2 separate regions of the Homo sapiens genome follow, and region 2 is linked to region 1. The links come from fine-mapping of genetic effects on gene expression. A gene starts in region 1. The other region holds a variant in brackets. All regions are shown on one strand. Distances are from middle to middle.

Evidence for each region. PIP is the estimated chance that this variant, and not a neighbour inherited with it, causes the effect. A credible set is the group of variants that fine-mapping cannot tell apart.
Region 2: its variant is the best candidate, but not a certain one, in a credible set for the expression of TFPI in nasal epithelium (TOPMed, PIP 0.70).

The regions. Positions count from the first base shown.
Region 1 is chr2:187,552,948-187,555,878 of GRCh38, reverse strand. TFPI (tissue factor pathway inhibitor) reads left to right here and starts at 1,444. Exons shown (of 8, transcript NM_006287.6): 1 at 1,444-1,679.
Region 2 is chr2:187,504,345-187,507,275 of GRCh38, reverse strand. All of the region lies in intron 1 of TFPI (tissue factor pathway inhibitor), which reads left to right. The region is part of intron 3 of CALCRL-AS1 (CALCRL and TFPI antisense RNA 1); the gene reads right to left. Among named protein-coding and RNA genes, the nearest start is that of TFPI, 49 kb to the left of the region's middle. The variant A/G (reference allele first, on the strand shown) is at 1,771.

The sequences.
Region 1 (2,931 bases):
AGGGAGAGGGAGAGGGAGAGGGAGAGGGAGGAGAGGCGAAACTTTCAAGAAAGAAAATCTGATTGGCTGAGCTTGCCTCTACCTGAGCTACAGATTCCTCAAAAGTTTAATCAAGGTCCATGGTGGTACCAAGAAAAAAGGACTTTCCTCTACAATCTGAGTGAGATGATAGCTTTGATTGTGGTTGAGGGGCAGGGCATGAGGTAATAGGAGATAAGTTATTAACATGATATGAAATCCAGAACATGAGTGAGAAGGCAGCATGGAGGAGGATTTATGCATTTTTGCTCTAAAGGCAGACTGCATGACATTAGAATCACAGCTCCACATACTGAACTCGATCTTCCTAGACATGTGAAATGGGCATACAAAGAGGACCTTCTTTATAAGCTAGTTGTGAGAATTAAATCGATAATTTATGTTCCAGTCACCACCAAATAATTATTCAATATGTATTAAAAACACTCAAGATGAAAGGTTACCTTTTACAGAGAGGTCTAAGGAAAGCAAGAAAAATTGAAGGCACAAAGAATCTGAGATGCAGAAGCAAGAAACTCCTACATTTTCTGACCAAATGTCTTCAGCCTTCCTGGCAAAGTAGATTCTGCCCATTTATTAGATCTCTAGTGATCTTAGTCTGATATGACCATAATTCCAATACAGAGACAGTACGGATGAACCTCAATGATAGGGACATACAGCAGAGACTCTGGTTGACATCTGTAAATATTTACATATTTTGTAGAATAATAATAATAGAAATACAGAAAACAGCGATAATGATAGCCAACAATTATTGGAGGTTTGCTACATGCTGGGTCCTGCCTTAAGTACTTTTTATGTATTAAGCCATTTAGTACTTACATCAAGCCCAGAAACTTTTATTATCGACATTTTAGGAACAAAGGAACTGAGGCATAGTGAATTCAAATAACTGGGCTGAGTAGCCAAGTTAGCAAGTAGCTAAGGTAGGGCTCAAAGCCTGACACCTGCAATAGATAATGCATTACATTGTCTCACTAAGAGAGACCTCCAACGGTAGCCCTCAGACTTTTAAAAAAAATAAATACATTGACAGTGGGTGAAACAAATGAAATAACTTGAAGAAGAAACAAACTGCAAAAAAGCTTATTAACAGTGTAATAATAAATATGTAATTTTTTAAACCCTAACTCTAGGGGGAAAAAAGCATTCTTTTTCAACTGATTACAAAAACAATCCTGGAAAGTAAAGGAAATAGCTATTCAAAATGATCGTATCTGAAATCTTGGTGTAAGCTGTTTCCTTCATCTGTTTCCTCCACTAAAAAAAAGAAAGAAAGAAAGAAAAAAGAGGTTTAGACTAAATAGAGTCAGAGTTGCAGTGACCTAAACAGGAAGTTGGGCTATTCCCAACTGCCAGTGATCTCTGAAGCCGACTCTGAGGCTCCCTCTTTGCTCTAACAGACAGCAGCGACTTTAGGCTGGATAATAGTCAAATTCTTACCTCGCTCTTTCACTGCTAGTAAGATCAGATTGCGTTTCTTTCAGTTACTCTTCAATCGCCAGTTTCTTGATCTGCTTCTAAAAGAAGAAGTAGAGAAGATAAATCCTGTCTTCAATACCTGGAAGGAAAAACAAAATAACCTCAACTCCGTTTTGAAAAAAACATTCCAAGAACTTTCATCAGAGATTTTACTTGTGAGTACCTGGCAATATACTGTCTAGCCCATAAGAAATAACTTTAATTTCTTTTTCTCGGGGGAAAAGCAGGGTGCTGAGAGGCAAAGAACTGATAGGGGAGGATCACTGTTTATTTGCGTAAAATGAAAATCAGCCCTTCCCTGTAAACAGAGTAAACTCAAACTGCAATCCAAACTTGAGTTCTCAGCATTTTGCATTTAGTTCTTAAGCAAATTTATGTGCAATTTTTATGATTTTAAACCATAAACATTTTTGTAACTAATTGGTGTATGTAGCTTTTTTATAATTTGAAGATTGTAGTAGAATTCTTTACTAATTGTGCTTGGTTAATTGGAAGTTCTTGAAAGTTCGGTTTACCTTTCCATTTTATTTCATAACATATAAAATAGAGACTGTTATTCTTCTATTCAAATAATCTTTCAATACTATTAGTTGATGATATTTAAAATGAGGTATAACCATTAAAATAATCGTAATCTAAATGGAATATTTTATGCCAGCATTAACTAATCTCTCTAAGGAAATATTTTACAATTCTCCAAAGACCAAAGGTCATATTCTGAGATACTTAAACGAGAATACTTACGATCAAGTCTATGTTGTGCAATTTTGTAAATTAAAACAATAGATAACATGCCTACATGATGTACTGTTATGTTCCTGTTATAAAATGTTTGCTTCTAGTGAAAAATGAAAGCATATAATACAGCAGTAAACAACCACAGAAATATAATGAGAGAAACAATTATTTAATTATGAAAAAGCACTCATTAGTATAAAATAATTACCAAAAATAAGGGCCAAGAGTACTACCATGTGGGAAAAAAGAAAAGATAAGCAACAGCCACACTGTGACTCAGTGCTCTGGAAATTAGTCACAAAATGACTTTGTATAACATGAGATAATATAAACACAAAGGGCAAAACTCAAGCAGGAAACATACTGCCCAGAGAGTCATATTTCATGTGTAAAAGCATAATATTTACATGAAAGGGGGAAAGTTGTGACAATTTTGAGAGATACTGCAAAACTTTTGAATAAAATGTGTTAGGGAGGCAAAATCTCCCTAACACATTTTAAAGATTATTTTAAATCTATCATTCTAGTGCATGATTATTTCAATATACAGTGTCCATATCTCATCTAATCCTTAAACTAAAGAGGGATAGTCCCTGAAATTTGGCTGAGTTTGAAATGTTAATTTGTGGCCTACAGCTTAATAAAATTATATGAAATATAATTAGGGAT
Region 2 (2,931 bases), 49 kb after region 1:
TACACCATGGAATACTATGCAGACATAAAAAAGGATGTGTTCATGTCCTTTGCAGAGACATGGATGAAGCTGGAAACCATCATTCTCAGCAAACTAACACAGGAACAGAAAACCAAACACCACATGTTCTCACTCATAAGTGGAAGTTGAGCAATGATAACACATGGACACAGGGAAGGGAACATCACATACCGGGGTCTGTCAGGGGGTGGGAGGCTAGGGGAGGGATAGCATTAGGAGAAATACCTAATGTAGATGATGGGTTGATGGGTGCAGCAAACCAACATGCCATGTGCATACCTATGTAACAAACCTGCATGTTCTGCACATATATCCCAGAACTTAAAGTATAAAAAAATAAATAAATAAACAGTATGGAAAGGTAGGGGTAGAAAGTAACTTCATAGTGGAGAAATCTAACAATCATTACCCCAGTCAGGTGTTTAAGATCAATATCAGCAGTCATAAATTATGTTGGTAGTATGTATCCTTGTCATAATGTGACAAAAATGGCACTTTAACTCTGTTATCTTCTTTCCCAAACCCCATAACCCTGGTCTAATTATGAGTAAAAACATCAGATAAATTCTATTAAGGGGATACCCTGCAAAATACCTGACCAGTATTATTCAAAACTGTCAAGATCATCAAAAATAAGAAAAATCTGAGAAACTGTCACAGCCAAGGGAACTTAAGGAGAGATGACAACTAGAGCAATTTGGTATTCTGGATGGGTTGCTAGAACAGAAACGTGCTGGGGAAAAGATAAGGATATTTGATTAACATATGGACTTTAGTTAGTAACAATGTATCAATTTTGGTATATTAACGATAAGTGCACCATACTAACGTAACATGTTAATAGGGAAACTGGGTGTGAGGTGTATGAGAAGTCTCTGTACATTCTTCTCTATTTTTTTTTAAATCTAAAACTATTTTAAATAATGGGGTCAATTTTTTTAAAAGAAGATGTTTCTATTAGAAAGCCAGGATTATGGGCTTATCAAGCAGATGTTTACAGCAAATTCTCTGCTGAACTATGGGGGGAGGAGATCTGCAAATGGTGTTTTATAAATCTCTGTTTTCTAATTTTAAGAAAGCTGGATTTTTCCAAAAGGAAAAAGATTTTGCATGGTATATAGAAGTTGGTGCATGGATTCATCCCTACATTAAATCTGTTATCACCCAGAACCAGACAGCATTTTTGAGTAAAAATTTAGATATTTGATTCCTCCTGCAATTCATGTACTTTATTTGCCTTTTGCTTTTCTTTTTTTTAAAAAAAAAATTACATACGCTACTATTTAGCTATGGCTTGCTGTGGTATATAGTCATATAGTCATATAGTCATTTATCTGTCTAACACCCTTCCCTTCTGAAAGCAACAATTTCCTCCTTCTGGGAGTTACACTTGTCCGTTTCCACCACCCAAACCATATGGTTCCATTAATATTTGCCATGCTATTACATTTTCTTATTCCTGACCCCAGACTGGTTTTGGGTCCACCAAATCTATGATGGTCTCCTACAATTCCCAACTCAAATGGATTGGTCCAAAAGGTGTCCCTTGTTTCATGCTAAAACTATCAGAGCTAGTCTCAAGCTATTTAAGCCTGGACCATAAAGAGAAGTAGTCACACTATTTTGATTGAAAAACTCTTAAGGTTTAAAACCCAGGACAGTTCATTGTTCATGCATCATGCTATGCAGAGAAGATTGGGTCACACTGAGAGAAAATAAAGCTGTCTAAGGAGTGTAGCCACAATGAGA[A/G]ATACCTGGTGGTGCTCAGCTCACCAGCTCTAGCTGTTTCTGAGAACTAATGCAAGCCTGCCCTTGTCATCTCAGATTGTTCCACATATTCTAGAATAAATAAACTGATGATCCAAATTTGTCAGAGCTGGTTTCTAATCCTAGCACCCAACGAAAGTCTAAAGTACTAAGTTTAGGCAATACCCTAGGCTGCCATTTTTTAAGACAGGAACTTGCTGAATTTAGAGCCCTCTCTCTCAAGGGCTTCAGCAGGCCCCCAACCTCAGCCTGCTTCCTGAACTGTGTGATGCAGAGTACACTCTGTATTTTATACTCAAAGTATAGCAGGATAGTATATTTCAAAGAATCAAATGGAAATAAATGAATCTCTGAAAAACGTGTTCAAAAATGCGATAAGGATTAGAAGTTTAGTTTCAAGATTCTTCAAAATCATGTATCTATATAAATATATATATATATTTGTGAATTCAAATGGTTTATGGTATGATTTACAAGATATATGAGATCTCTACTGACTAAAAATCAAATGTATGTTAACACTTGCAAAGTGTTGTGAGAAAAAAAGGTTATGTATCTCACTAGTGATTTTAATGAAACTTAAAGCATAATAACATTTATTACTTAATTATTATATGGCTACCCACAATGGTGTATATTGCAGCTGTGATCTGCTACAGACAAAACCAGATAATTCTCTAGATTGTTTTTGATGGAGTATCTGTCCCTGCATTTGTGAATGTTTGCTGATAAGATCTCGCTTTCCTTCCTGACTGGAAGGGCACTGGTGGCTGAGAACAGGAAGGAAGCAAGTGTTCTCTTCTTTTATTTTTCTGTGTTGCATGATCATTACACTTTTCCTTCCACCTTTAAATCCAAAGAAGAAGTCGTCTTTAAAAAAATAAAGGTGACTTACTTCTTTCTTTTCTTTTTTTTTTTTTTCCTTTTTGGCGATAGATCTTTAAACAACGTTGAAACAGGAAAAGTCTCACTCTCCTATTGAAATCTGATTCCTTTAGAGTGTAAGAGTGATGGCTTATCACTTAGAGTCACTTTTCTGTGAAACTTTTTGAATCAGATAACTCCCTAAACTGCGGAATAATGAACTGGGAAAGAGGACTAACTCGAATGTCAGACACTTCTTTTGTCCTCTGTTTTGGCTGT